Homo sapiens: one gene and its partners. The protein of the gene in region 4 purifies or fractionates together with the protein of the main gene of each other region. This does not show direct contact. Each region holds a gene or a part of one and is shown on either strand. Other genes may lie near its edges.

The links.
Region 1: the proteins of POLK (region 4) and DHX38 purify together in Homo sapiens (affinity purification with mass spectrometry, with the first as the bait; one large-scale study listed by BioGRID). This does not show direct contact.
Region 2: the proteins of POLK (region 4) and NLRP10 purify together in Homo sapiens (affinity purification with mass spectrometry, with the first as the bait; one large-scale study listed by BioGRID). This does not show direct contact.
Region 3: the proteins of POLK (region 4) and DCTN4 purify together in Homo sapiens (affinity purification with mass spectrometry, with the first as the bait; one large-scale study listed by BioGRID). This does not show direct contact.

Annotation. Positions count from the first base shown.
Region 1 is NC_000016.10:72,107,314-72,110,871, reverse strand, and holds part of DHX38 (pre-mRNA-splicing factor ATP-dependent RNA helicase PRP16), read right to left. Parts: intron 3,533-3,558; coding exon 3,324-3,532; intron 3,228-3,323; coding exon 3,073-3,227; intron 2,646-3,072; coding exon 2,490-2,645; intron 2,400-2,489; coding exon 2,265-2,399; intron 2,073-2,264; coding exon 1,947-2,072; intron 1,458-1,946; coding exon 1,362-1,457; intron 1-1,361. UniProt on the Homo sapiens protein: Probable ATP-binding RNA helicase. Involved in pre-mRNA splicing as component of the spliceosome.
Region 2 is NC_000011.10:7,962,623-7,966,654, forward strand, and holds the start of NLRP10 (NACHT, LRR and PYD domains-containing protein 10), read right to left. Parts: upstream 2,826-4,032; 5' UTR 2,624-2,825; intron 1,053-2,623; exon of another isoform or gene 919-1,052; 5' UTR 874-918; coding exon 585-873; intron 1-584.
Region 3 is NC_000005.10:150,707,915-150,711,011, forward strand, and holds the end of DCTN4 (dynactin subunit 4), read right to left. Parts: 3' UTR 526-3,097; downstream 1-525. UniProt on the Homo sapiens protein: Part of the dynactin complex that activates the molecular motor dynein for ultra-processive transport along microtubules.
Region 4 is NC_000005.10:75,577,850-75,581,407, reverse strand, and holds part of POLK (DNA polymerase kappa), read right to left. Parts: intron 853-3,558; coding exon of another isoform or gene 811-852; intron 200-810; coding exon 1-199. UniProt on the Homo sapiens protein: DNA polymerase specifically involved in DNA repair. Plays an important role in translesion synthesis, where the normal high-fidelity DNA polymerases cannot proceed and DNA synthesis stalls.

The DNA.
Region 1 (3,558 bases), on a different chromosome or scaffold from region 4:
ACCAGGTGCTGCATCCACCAGGCCAGTGCTCCACATGGCTGCCTGCCCCAGTACCAAAGCCGCCTTCTCTTCTGCAGCTGAGGCCTGCTTTTTTCACTGACTCAAGACACTGGACAATCAGTCCTAACTCAGTCATCCCTCAGTCCAGGAAGTACTTACATTTCCTTCTTTTTTGAAAAATCAAGTTCACAACTATGCTAGGAAGTACAGAAAAACAGGGAAGATGTGATTACCTGCTGGCTGGAAGAGACAGGCATAAGATGCAAGGGAGCCTGGTATGGGGAGAATTATGCTACGAAAAGGGGTAAGCCAAAGCCCAGCACCATTTTGCAACCCTAAATATGGATCTAGGCAATGGCCATCAACAGACGCTAAAACCTCAAGATGGAGGAGCAGTGGAAACCTATCAGGGAAGAGGCAGGCTGCCACCACTGGGGCCCCTCATCCATCCTCCCATCAGCAAAGGTGGGGCCACCAGACCTCACATGCCTCCTGAAGGCATCTAAGAGGAGGTTCACAGTGCCACATGCAGGCATCTCTGCCACACGCAGCTCAGCCGGGATCTAATTGAGCGGTTGGACTCATCGCCAGCTTACAGCAAGTGCACGAAACACAGGCACAGGTTAAACACCGCTGTGAGCAAGCAATGAGGCAAATACATCATATGGACTATTCGACAGGACAAATGACCTGGCTGCTCCAATAAATCAATGTCATGAAAAAAAGCGTGGGGTGGAGCCTGTTCTAGAATGAAACAGTTAACACACATAAGCAGTTGCAATGCCTGGATCCTAATTCAAGCAAATCGATCATAAGAAGTTATCTTTGAGATAAATGGAGAAATCCAAATGCGGACTGGAGACTTAGGTGACATTAAGTATTCATTTTTTTATGAGTGATAACGGCACAGAGGTTATATTTAAAATTTTAAGTCCTTTTAGTCAGAGACACATACTCAAGTATTTATGGATGAATAATGTATGAGATAAGCTTTAAAATATTCCAGAAAAAAAAAATGGATGTGTGTGGAGTGGGGTAGGAATAGTGAAATTGAACAAACGTTGACAATTATAGAGGCAAGGCAACGAATTCATGGTGGCCTGTTGTACTGTTTTTCCCACTTTCATGAATATTTGGACTTTTCAATAATGAGTTTTTTGGTTTTGTTTTTAAAGGCTCAGCCTACCAAACAACTGGAGTGGGTGGTGGGGAATCAGACAGACCCAGCCTGCTGGATCACAGCCTTTATGTTTGCAGAGAGAAGTAAGTGGGTTGGATGACCGCAAGTCTTCAATACCAAGCGGAGGGAACACCGACCCCACAGGCAAACAGCACCCCTGCGAAGAGCACAGAATCCTCACCTGCCGTGACTTGCCCGCCTGTTTCACGCTATAGAACATGGGGCCCAGCTCCGCCAGCCACTCCCCGTCCACAGCGGTCACACACTGCATATACTCCTGCGGGCAGAAGGGCAGGGAGGCGAGGGTCACAGGAGGGCCAATGTCCCTCCCAGAGTGGTTCCACAATTAGGAGCCACATGGGAAGGGCCCAATCCCTGGCCCTGCAAGGCTGAAAAAAGGAAAGGAAAAACCCCAGATACTCCCATCCAAACTCCTCCACACTTGAGAAAATGCCCCCAGTATCTAAAAGAAAAGGCCCAACCCCTCCGAAAATCCTTCTAATGACACCAAGAGGGGTTGCTCATCCCAAGCAGCAAGTGGGGAACAATCGTGCCCATGCAGCTGAGGTCAATGCAGTCTAGAGGTCAACCCTGTGCAGAGCTTCCCCAAGTCCCCAAATGAAAACCAACCTCACATGCCCCGCAAAACAATGCATGTGGCCTCAAGGCTCCCAGGCTAAAAGCTCATGCCAGAACGCAGTGAAGGGTTTCAAAGCCTGGCCAGACAGGGGGCCTGCATTATGCAAGTGCCTTGGAAAAGACTCACCTTGGTGGTCATGACCAACTCGTGATACACTATGTAATCTGGGGTGTAGCCCATTCCAAAAAGGGAGCTGGTGGGGTGCAAGTGGCAGGGCATCCCTGTGCGGATGTTCACGTACTCCCCGATTCCCTAGGGAGGAGACACAACAGGCAGCCACATCAGGAAAACAACACCCATTTGGGCAGCGACCCCATCCCTTAACACTCTTGACACAGCCTTTGGCGGAAGCCCAGATCTGCAGAACCACACCAGGACAAAGGAAGAACTTTGCCCTTATACAGGTATCAGGCTGGGAGGGGCTCACTGGGCTCCTGGGTTCACCTTGAGCTTGGCTGCTTGGTGGAAATAGGCAGCACAGATGCACTTCCTGACGATGTCCCAGTCAGTGCCACACGAGGCCAGGCTCATCCGCTGCTGCACCATGATGTCCTTGAGTTGAGCTCGCACCTCCCGGACCTAGGGCAGGAGACGGAGGCACCAGGAGGGAGCCCTCCTTTCCTCTCGACCCTCCCCTCATCCCAACATCCTGCTCATCCACCACTCTACCTTCCGCATGGCCTTAGCATGGATGAAATGATCGTTACACCAGATGGTGGAGTAATTATTGTTCTTCCACTGCAGGTAAACATTCAGGTAGGTCAAATGATCGCTCTCAGGAACAGCGAACTTCTCCCGGATTTGATCACTCTCCTCCTCTCGACCCTAGGAAGGGAAAAAGAACCTTCACTCTAAGTACAGGGGGGTCCAGGCCCACTGAGCACATCCCAGAGGTTCTAACACTACCACCTACCCACACATAGAACTTCAAACATGTCAATAGGTTGCCCTGACAATTTGAGAAAAATTAAAATAATTTTTAAAAAGGTCTACTCTAAAACATGAGGGCTCAAGAGCAACCATACTAGAAGATAAAAAATGCTCTTGCAAATTTCCAAAGCATTCCCTGAGAACCACTGGCCCAGCCCTTCCTTTCCCCTACCCCAACCTGCTTAACCGAGAACAGCAAAATCATTCTTCAGAAACTCTGATTCTGCCCTCTGTTCCATTTCAGTAATACAGAGAGAAGCCATTCCCCTCCCCAACACTTCCTCGAGCCCTCCGGGGAGAGGGGAGCCAGCCGCTGCCCCACCTTGGGCCTGTAGAAGATGGCTGGGACCGAGAGCATGGAAACGATGAGCAGGATCTCGGAGCTGCAGCCCATGTCACAGGACACGATGAGCATCTTGGACAGGGCAGGGTCCAGCGGGAACTCCACCATCAGCCGCCCGGTAGAGGTCAGACCACCTAGGAGAGATGAGCAAACCCGGATATTTGACGGGACAGTAGAGGAAAGAAGGAAGTCAAGCGCCAGCACCCATGAGGCTCCCGGGGCCGCCTCACCTGTGTTGTCCAGGGCCCCGAGGATCCAGAGCTGATACATAGAGTTGAGCATGTTGTCCTCCGGGGGCGGGTCCATGAAGTGGAACTGCAGCAGGTCCTGCACCCCGAGGGACTTGAGCAGCAGCACCACGTTGGCCAGGTTAGTCCTCTGGATCTCGGGCACTGTGGTGGTCAGGAGCTCATTCTTGTAGGCGCTCTGGGTGTAGAGCCTGCCGGGGAGAAGACCCCATCTTCT
Region 2 (4,032 bases), on a different chromosome or scaffold from region 4:
CCTCCCATTTGTACGTAGCAGAGGAGCTTTCAAGCATGAAAGGAGCCTATGGGAGGGAGCAAAGGCACCAAAAGATCCCTCCCTCCCCCCAGGCACCCACAGGAAGAACCAGCAGGCCATGAGGTCCCACACCACCCATTCTGTAGTGTGGTTCCTTGAGAGATCAGGGCCACAGAAGACTTAGAAGCGCCTGAGCAGCTTGCCAGGAAGCAGCTAGGGACAGGTCTGACCCCTACATCCTGATGCTATTTCTTCTGGTTAGTGGAAATCCCTTCACCAACACCCTCCCAGTCTCTAAGACCCTTTCTTCAGACTCTCCCCTTCTCTGCCACTGCAGCTGGAGGTAAGATGTGGGGAAGAAAGGCTAGTCTTTTCTTAAATAAATCCCAGCTTTGGCTCAGTCCCCCTCCTGACAGTTGTTGGAACCCTCAGGTGGAGACCACCAAGGACTCTGGGGCACCAGGGACTAGAGGACAAGGTGACAGAAGGCATAAGGTACAGGCTACAGGCAGCTCTGGAAATGCCATGGTGGGAGGGGAGTCCCAGTGCCATCCTGCCCTCCCCTTCCCCCGCTCCACACTCACCATGCAGACAAATATGGCTGAGCTGGTCCACAAGTTCCAACAGGTTCATGACCTTCAAGCCCTTGAGGACAACTTTCACAGCCTCCTTTTCTCCATACTTTGAAATCAGTAATTCTGCCAGGTCCACCGGAATCAGGCCCTCCAACTCCCCTCTGGCCAGTGGGGGCTGGCCCTCAGACAGGGTCATATCCCGTAAGTAGAACTTTAACTTCTTGAAATCGTTCTCCTCAAGGTCACTCAAGGCCCAGAGCAATGCCTCCCGGGGCTTTCTGGCCTTGGCCATGGCCATGGTGATCTGGGGGAAGGATCAAGTCCAGACCAGAAGACCAGTGACCTGGAGAAAGAGGCAAAAGGAGAGGTCCACTGCTGAGAGGCCCACCCTGCTTTCTGGGGGCTTGGCCAAGTTATAGAGCGGAGGCCAGGGAGAGACGAGATACATGTGCAAAGCTCCAAGAAAGACAAGCAGATGAAACGCAGGGGAATTTTCCTAGTCATTCCCCTCTGCCTCTTAGTCAGGTGACACGTGACTGTGTTGGCAAATGGGTAGGAAGGTATGTAGGTGTGTTAATCTCTCAATCTCTCTCTCTCTCCCCCAAACTCTATCTCTGTCTCTCTCTCTCCCCCCACTCCCTTCCTCTTTCCCTCTCAACACGTTCTTTATTAGGCTCTGTATGCCTCCTTAGACGGATGGATTAAGAAAAAAAAGTCTAAGTTTTTTATTTTATTTTTTTTGGAGACAGAGTCTACCTCTGTTGCCCAGGCTGGGGAGCAGTGGCATGATCTCGGCTCACCTCAACCTCCACATCCCACGTTCAAGCAATTCTCCTGCCTCAGCCTCCCAAGTAGCTGGAATTGCAGGTGCCCACCACCATGCCCAGCTCACTTTTGTATTTTTAGTAGAGATGGGGTTTCACCATACGGGCCCGGCTAGACTCGATCTCCTGACCTCAGGTGATCTGCCCGCCTTGGCTTCCCAAAGTGCTGGGATTACAGGCATGAGCTACTGTGCCCGGCCAAGTTTTAAGTTTTAAAAGTGAGACTGTCCCTGGCTGTGTGAACCTATAGAAAGCTGGAGCACATTTGCTGGAACTGCTGTGGTATGGCAAGAAGGTAAAAAAAATCTACACTCAACCCATTGGCCTCACATGTCAGCCTCCTGGCCTCAGTCACACAGGGATTGCAAAGCTAGAAGTCTCCTAATTCAAATAAGGAAACAAATCCAGATAATGATAGGAAGAGGAACCGCCACCTGTGAGTGCTGACTTTGTGCCAGGTGATTTACATATCCTTTTTGATCATCTCAGAAATCGTCTCAGGAACTGTTCCACATGAGAAATTTGGCAGTCAGAGAAAAATGGTTTTTCAGAGTTTTCCAGAGCTAGGCCACCGGGCAAAGAGGCAGGATTTAAACTGGTCTATGCCCTGGGTGGAAGAGAGAGACAGAAAAAACTCAAAAGATAAAGAAATAGAAGACAGAGTCAGGAACCAGAAAGTTAGGCTAAATGTTGCCAGAAGCTGGAGACATGTATAAATACTAAAGTAACGGGAAAGGAGAGCAGAGTTTTGAATTGTGTTTCTAATGTAGAACCAAAATGTAGGCCAGGTGGCAGTCTTTGGAAAAGAAAAGCAACAATTAATAGAAAGCCTTCAGAATCCAGAAATACACCTGTGACCTAAGGCCCATAGGGAACCCATCTCAGTAGTACAATGTCACATTCATCATTGAGAGTGTTCAAAAGAGAATTTGGGAACACAGAGAGTTGTTGCCATTCAAATACCAACATTTTGACTACATACTGACAGAGAAAGAAAATGTTTGGAACATGTTAGGATACAGGGGACTTTGGTTGTGAGTCATAGGCCAGTTTGGAAAAGCAGGCCTGTGAAAGCAGGATCAATTTACAACAAAGCTTCAGGCTGCATGGGAAGACTCAGGGCTTCCCTGCAAATTTCTGATGTTGGCAGAGCTATTTAATAATTCAGGAAAGAAAAGACAACACTAGAACCTGCCAAGAAGATGTCCAGTCTAGGCTGCTTACCACAGTTCAGACTTGGGGAGCTGGAGGTGAGGCAGCGAGAACTCAGCTCCCTGATCCAGGAGCCCAGTAAGCAAAGCCTGGGGACTGAGACGAAACAGATCCCCTTTCCTGGTCCGACAGCTCTACAGGTCCAAGTTTGGGCTCTCTTAGCCCATACTCACTAGTTCACTTCTGTTTGGTGGTGCTGGTACCTACCAGCTACAGCTTGATACCTAACAGTTCCTAGTATATAGGCCTGGAACAGAAGGGCCCCTCCCCATCTGCCCCAAGCCTCTGTGAAGCAGAACCACCCACTGAATGTCAGTGGGATGACTGTCAATGGGATGGGCAATTGCTCACCAGTGGGAAACTTGACCTCATTTTTTCAAATGTTGAAGTTGAGAAACAAGGGAGGGGTGGAAGGCATGAACTATTCTGTCACCAAGAGAAAAAGAGCCCAGGAGACTTCCCACATCCCTCCCTGGAACCCACACTCCTCCTCTACCACTTAACCCCAGCCTAGGCTGGGGCAGTTTGACTAGAGAGACGAAAGAATTGAAGCACTGCCACCACCATATCCTCCGCCAGTGCACCATTTCTCTAAGTTGTTGAAATCACTGGAGAATGAAAAAGGAAGAAGATAGGAGCTCCATGAAGTAGGAATTCAAACAAGGAGAAAAACAGGCCAGGCATGGTGGTTCACGCCTGTAATCCCAGCACTTTGGGAGGCTGAGGTGCGTGGATCATTTGATGTCAGGAGTTTGAGACCAGCCTGATCAACATGGTGAAACCCTGTCTCTACTAAAAATACGCAAATTAGCCGGGAATCATGGTGCATGCCTGTAATCTCAGCTACTAGGGAGGCTGAGGCAGGAAAATTGCTTGAACCCAGGAGGCGGAGGTTGCAGCGAGCTGAGATTGTGCCACTGCACTCCAACCTGGGCAACAAAGTAAGACTTTGTCTCAAAAAAACAAAAAAGAAAAAGGAGAAAAACAAATTCCCAGAAGGCAGCCAGTCCTCTGGCCTAGAGAGCTGAGGATCCCCAAGAGCCCTGACAGAAAGAGAACAGGTTTCTCCAAAAAGAATGTCTCCAAGAAAAAAGAAAAAAGACTTGCTAGACTAGCTGATGCTATTGGCCTTCTAAAACAGCCTATTGGGAGGCTATTAGAAGGTGGAAAAAGCTAGCAGTAACTTCCAAGAAAACCAGATAAATGAAAGTAAAATAAAGAAATTACTAGCAAGAGGAGAAACAAAAAATAAAATTGGAAATATAATAGTAAACTAATATACTCAAGTGTGAATAATGTTTGCATAGAAATCATAGTGTAACCACTGAACATTGCTCTAAAATTTAAAATATAATTACATTGAAAGGATGGTGGTGGAATGTACTAGAAGAGGAAGTTGATAGACAATGCCTAAAATGTTG
Region 3 (3,097 bases), about 75 Mb from region 4:
TGTTAGCCAGGATGGTCTCGATCTCCTGACCTCGTGATCTGCCCGCCTCAGCCTCCCAAAGTGCTGGGATTACAGGTGTGAGCCACCGCACCTGGCCATTTTTGTTTTTTAAAAAACTTTTACTTAAACAGAGACAAGGTCTTGTTAGGTTTTCCAGTCTTGTCTCAAACTCCTGGCCTCAAATCATCCTCTCACCTCGGCCTCCTAAAGCGCTGGGATTACAGGTGTGAGCGATCATGCCCAGTCAGAGTTAGAGGAGTTTTGCTGTACAGGGAGTGGAGAAATGGAGTGGCAGCTGAAGAGGAGAGTGAGGCCAATTTCTTTTTTAAGATGAGAGAAATCACATGCTAATGGAAAAGGGAAGGAGGGAGCTGCCGATGCTATCTGTGAATAGGTAAGAGGATGAGCTTCAGTGTTAAGAGGTGGGGCTGGGTTCCAACAGGAAGAGTATGAATAATTCATCTAAGTAAGAGGAGGGAAGGAACAGTTATGAAGGTACAGATGAAGGTGATGAGTGGCCACTGGTGGAGTCAGACCACTGTGTATATTGTAAAGGATATCTTTAGAAGCAATGACCCAGGATAAAAACTGGTAGAGGTCTAACAACATTTATATAATGGTTCTGTGAATATGTATATAAGAAGCTCAAAGCAACATCTACTTATATATTATGGTGAACTAACCTGCTAAGAGATTTTAGATTACTTCATTTAAGGAATGGAAGGGAGCATGCCCCACCAACTCTCTTAGCCAACTCTCTTAACTTCACGCTTGTCTTTTGGCTCTGAGCCATGCTACTTAGTATCTACATGAGAGCAAACAAAAGACACGCTCAAGCTTTGTCTGCTTTATTTCACTACATTAAGTTAAGCAATAAGGCAAAACAGTAACCTGTCATTCATAAAGATCAAGGAGTACCTCTCTGTCCCAAAAGGGACCAAAAAGGGTGTTTCTTCACAAATATGCATGACACTTAGCTCATTATGCTGATAAGCACTTCAAACAAAAGAAAAGGTCAGTAGGTGAATCAAGTAACAAATCCAAATTAACTTAGCCTAAGTTTCCAAAGCTGTAGTTTCAAGTGCTAATGGGATCTAACTTTCCTGTGGTGGTGCATACTGACTAGCATTAAAATTTTTGCACCTCATCTAATATAAAAAAGGCAACAAATACAATTCCTAATTCACCAGCTGCAGGTATTGAATCATTTCTACGAACACACAGAATACTAGCTTACACTAAAACCTATCTTGAGGAAACATTAAACCAGTGGCTCTATTATTCTGCAAGTTAGTTTGGCTTCTGAAGAAAAAAGTTTATGATCAAAGTGTTTTGTGTTTCTGTGTATGGGAATGATGAGACCCATACTTCAACATTATTACTTTGGGGAATAAATACCAGCTACCTGCCATAAACGCATGACATGTGTGTAGTCTATGCAAACGTGTAAACATATGAAGCTATTCTCTACTCTATGCCCATTTCCTCCACTGGCAAATATGGAGCAGTGATTTCACAGTAGGCTCTAGCAGGTAGTGAAATAAAAATTTGAGACTCTGTGGGGTCACAAAAAAATGAAACTCTTTCTATAGTCTGCAAATCTGTAATTACCCATCCCCCTGCTCCAACTCCTAAGAGGCTAAATGTTATTACCATAATGTTAGAGATGAGTATTTTCCTTCTTACACTGCATCACATATATTACTCTGTAGGACTGTTTCATAAAATTGGCTTGACCTTTGTACAATTAGTACAATTTAGTGTCTTTTAGAGTACAATTTAGTGTCTTTTAAAAGCTTCCTAAATATTTAAAACATTTTCAAGGGAAGCTTACAAGGACTATGTCCCATCTGTATTCTACATTATAATGTTATCTTTAATTTTTTAAGACTTAAAACAAGACCAAGGTAAACAAAAAATCTGTATTTTCCTCAAGTCTCTTGGCCACTTACTAACAATACTTTTACAGAAAACACGGTGCAGCTGGTGGTCTACTTTATCAAGTTTCATTTTAGAAAACATCATAGAAATTAAGGTTAGCAACCCAACTCCAGGATACCAAGTGAAAACAGCAAGTCTGCTGTTAGGCCAGAACTGTGGGCTACTTGCTGAACTATTTTATGGTTTACAATCAAAATGGTCTTATTTGACTCACCACATGACAAAAGTCTTAAACTTAGTAAGGGGGAAAGTTCTTAATATCCAGTTTTGGATTCAAGAGATTATAATAGTTAATTTCCCCTTCAAATCAATGGAAAGAATGCTAGTTGAGAATATTCTAAAAATCTAGCCTTTAAAATGTTTTCTGCATTCCAGAAATGAACCTGTCCACTCAGGTTTTCTTTGGGTTCTTTTCCAGGTCCCAAACAGAACAACTTAACTGAGTTAAAGAGGCAGAACAGGGAAGGGGTAGGAAGTAAGACAAATAAAGATTGCCCCCCTGTGGCAGCATTAATCCCTGGGTATTGTGGCAATATTGAAAACGAATGGAATCTGCTACCCCCTTGACATGACATGTAATTGTTTGCTTCTCAAATTCTTCTTAAAAGATCCATATTTTACTGGGAAAAAAATTAAGAACAACTAATACGTGTCCTGTATTCACTTAGAAAAAGAGGGCAAATGAGAGTGCCTTAACAACTTCACAGGTTTTTCCAATCATCATGATACTAAAGATAAAGTGACAATTCAGTTTTTCAGTTATATGGAAATCTATGGCAAAATGGCAGCCATTATGGCAATGAAGGGATATGTTTTAGACTGTTAGATGATATTTAACGGAATGCAGAAAGCAGTTGGTACATTGTGACCAATGCTGGATCATTAACAGCAGGTCTACCTTTGGGTTATCATTTAAGTTTCATCTGTGACATTGTGATCCTTAGTGAGATCAGATCAAGAGACAGTACAGAGTTTCTCAGGTGGTAAATACAATGCCATTCCAAGGAACACCCATCCCCTTTCCTAGGATGGAATTATGCTGCTGTTACTCAACGTGCAGGGTTCAGTGAGGGAGACACAGACTTACTGGTGTCAACAGGGGTGAGAGCAAGAGCAACAGCAGCTACCCTGTGTTCCCAATGCCTTGCCTATGCTC
Region 4 (3,558 bases):
CGAATTTCCTTTACCACTTCCTGGGCTGATGTTCCAAAAACAACTGAGTTTTGGAGTATTTGAGGATTGTTTTGTTCTTCAAAGTTCACTTGGAAAGGATCTCCTGGGGGCTGCACATCAGAAGGACTCTCTTCAAAAAGTAGTGGAGAGATGGATCGTTCATGCTCACTCAGTTTATTAACTTCCTTTCCTGGATTATCTAAGTCATAAACAGGAAAATAACTCACCTTTATTTTAAGAAGTATATACTTCATAAGTTAGGTTTCCCTACATTATTTCTGAAGACAAAAACAAAAATCTAGTTTAGTTTAGTTTCTAGGATCCAAGATCAGAAATGCCATCATTTATCATTTAATGTTTTATAACCATTAAAGAGAACACTGATTATGAATTTTTCTTAAAAAGACTATTATCCATTTCCACAGTATAAATATTAAAAGGAAATATCTTATGTAAAACTCACTAATGTTCGTACCTAAATTAATTGAAATTCAGAATTAGGTTTCAGTTCACATTACCTTTTTCTTAAAAAAAAAAAAAGGAAATCTTTTCTTTATTCTTCTTTAGGAAGAAAAAGAATCTTCGAAAATTAGAATTTAGAATATAATAAACAATATATAATAATTATACTGAAAATAAGTTTTGTTTTTAGAAGGAAAAACACTTAACTTTTCTTCATTTATGGAAGAAACCTTTTAGATGTTAAAATAATCTGAATTTTCTTCTTTCAAATGCTGATTTTAATTTTGATTTGCTTGTTTATAAAGTATCACTTTGACTAAGGGCACATTTGTAATAAATAGAAATTACCTGTGAAAGTTATGCTTCTTTGAATATACAAATTCTGAAGGTCTGATTGGATAATCCAAGTTTAAGAAAAAGAGACGTTATTATTAATAGGCTATAAACTATTATTACAAAGTAAAGTAAAAATACCAGTCTGGTTATTGCCTCTTTATATTTATATTTTTCATAAATGGACTGTAAAATATTCTTAAATCTATACTGATACTAAAAATGTCTCCATGAACAAATCTATTAAAGCCTGTTTTCTTGGCTTAATGTAGAAGAAATACAATTTAAATGTATTTATAACAACCAAGGTTAGCAACAAAGCTTTCTGATCCCATCTCGTAATTTTATTACATATAAATATTTTCCAAATTAAGGTCAATACAGAAGAAAAAATTAAATTTCTAGTTTTAAGATGCATACGAATGTATATTACTTGAAAAATGTATTTGGCTGTTTAGGAAAAAATTTTAAAGATAATATAAAATAAATATGACAGACATCTGATTAATTTAAAAATTTAAAATATGTAGTGTGAAGTAAGTCATAGATGTTAATTCAGTCAGATGTTTTCCAAATCTGAATTCCCAGGGCACATACACAATAAGCTTATTTTCTTTCTCTCTTTTTTTTTTTTTTTTTTTAAGACAGGGTCTCCCTCTTGCCCAGGCTGGAGTATAGCTAGGACTACAGGCGCGAGCCATCACGCTTAGCTAATTTTATAATTTTTTGGTAAATATAGGGTTTCACAATCTTGCCCAGGGTGGTCTCAAACTCCTGGCCTCAACTGATCCTCCCACCTCAGCCTCCTAAAGTGCTAGGATTATAAATGTGAACCACCTTGCCTCGCCAATAAGCCTTATTTTCAAACTTACATTAGCTGATATTTATGTGCTTCAGTTCCTGTCATTTTTTAATATGCTGGTTTTAAAATGTAGAACAATTCAGAGGGGAAACAGGCCAGGCAAGGTGGCTCACGTCTGTAATCCCAGCACTTTGGGAAGCTGAGGTGGGAGGATCACCTGAGGTCAGGAGTTCGAGACCAGCCTGGCTAACATGGTGAAACCCCATCTCTACTAAAAATACAAAAATGAGCCAGGAATGGTGGCGCACAGCTACTCCGGAGGCTGGGGCAGGAGAATTACTTCAACCCAGGAGGCAGAGGTTGCAGTGAGCTGAGATTGTGCCACTGTACTCCAGCCTTGGTGACAGAGTGAGACTCCATCTCAAAAAAATAAAAAAAAATAAAAAAAAAATAAAGACTGTGAAACAATTGAAATGGTATCTACCTGGAGCCCTTTTCCCCATCTGGATGGGTAGAAGTCACGGTAAAGAAAGCTACAGAAAAACTGCAAACCAAGTAAGTTATCTGCCACATTCATAAACCCGTTCTGCAGAGTTTTTTATGCCATGTTTTGTACCTCATGCCTCTACCACCCTGCCCTCAGGTGAGCCACTGTGAGAGCAGAACTATACAGCAGGAAGTGAAGAATGCTGCCTTCTCACACATTATCAGAGCTGCTGCAGAATGTTCAGGTACCTTTTCAATCTGAACTACTTTCTACTTTTTTGTGAGGCCTGGCTGTGTAACTAAGAGCTGAAGTAGTTTCTTATTTGCTTTGTGACAGAAACATCTTTATAATCCCCATAACTAAGGTAATCAGAATGTAACACTAGGATTAAAGCATTTCATTTGGAAGACAAGTGCTAAAAAGTGTATGGTATTTCAGTTTCTTATATTATCTGGCACTCACCATCCAGATTTACATGGGAGAGTAAACATTTAAAAAATTATTATTTTATTTGTATGTAGAGATGGTAGTTAGCAATATATTTCCAAAGACAAACACCTTTTAGAAAATGGGGAAACAGCAAAACAATGTCTTGGACTTTAGAGGAAGATATATCAATTGCCTTCCACAGTTCCAATGCACTATTGACAATTTCCCATGGCATGATGTGAGGTGAGACACGCCTGAAAGTCCAGCCCACAGGTATTTACACATGAGAAGAAAAGTTTAACTATTCCAATTGTTTAAGAATATGAAAATACACGAAGAGGGCAATATACAAGTAAATATGTTAAAAGCAATAGATATTAAAAATTCACATATTCATAGTGAGTTTGGACATTATAATAAATGAAAAGAACATTAGTAGGCTGGGCGTGGTGGCTCATGCCTGTAATCCCAGCACTTTGGAAGGCCGAGGCGGGCAGATCACCTGAGGTCAGGAGTTTGAGACCAGCCTGGCCAACATGGTGAAACCCCACCTCTACTAAAAATACAAAAAATTAGTCGGGTGTGGTGGCACGCGCCTCTAATCCCAGATACTTGGGAGTCTAAGGCAGGAGAACTGCTTGAACCCAGGAGGCGGAGGTTGCAGTGAGCTGAGACTGCACCACTGCACTCCAGCCTGGGCAACACAGTGAGACCCTATCTCAAAAAAAAGAAAAAAATTAGTAGAAAATGAAAACATTTACTTTAATCCCAATGTAAAGCTTTTAAAACACATCATGCAAGTAATTGTTATGGGAGGCCCTCAGGGGATGCTTTGACATAATTATTTAATGATTTTCCCCCATTCTCTTGTGAAAGTAAGGAATTAATAAAGTAAGATTTTATACAAAGTGACATCAGGCTTTATGTTCCACATCCTCAAACAATAAAGTTACACCAAATAAGGAAAACCTTTTGCTCTGTGCCTGTGTCGAGAAATGATGATTATTGTTTAATGCTCCTATAAAAAAAAAGAGAGAGCTATCCC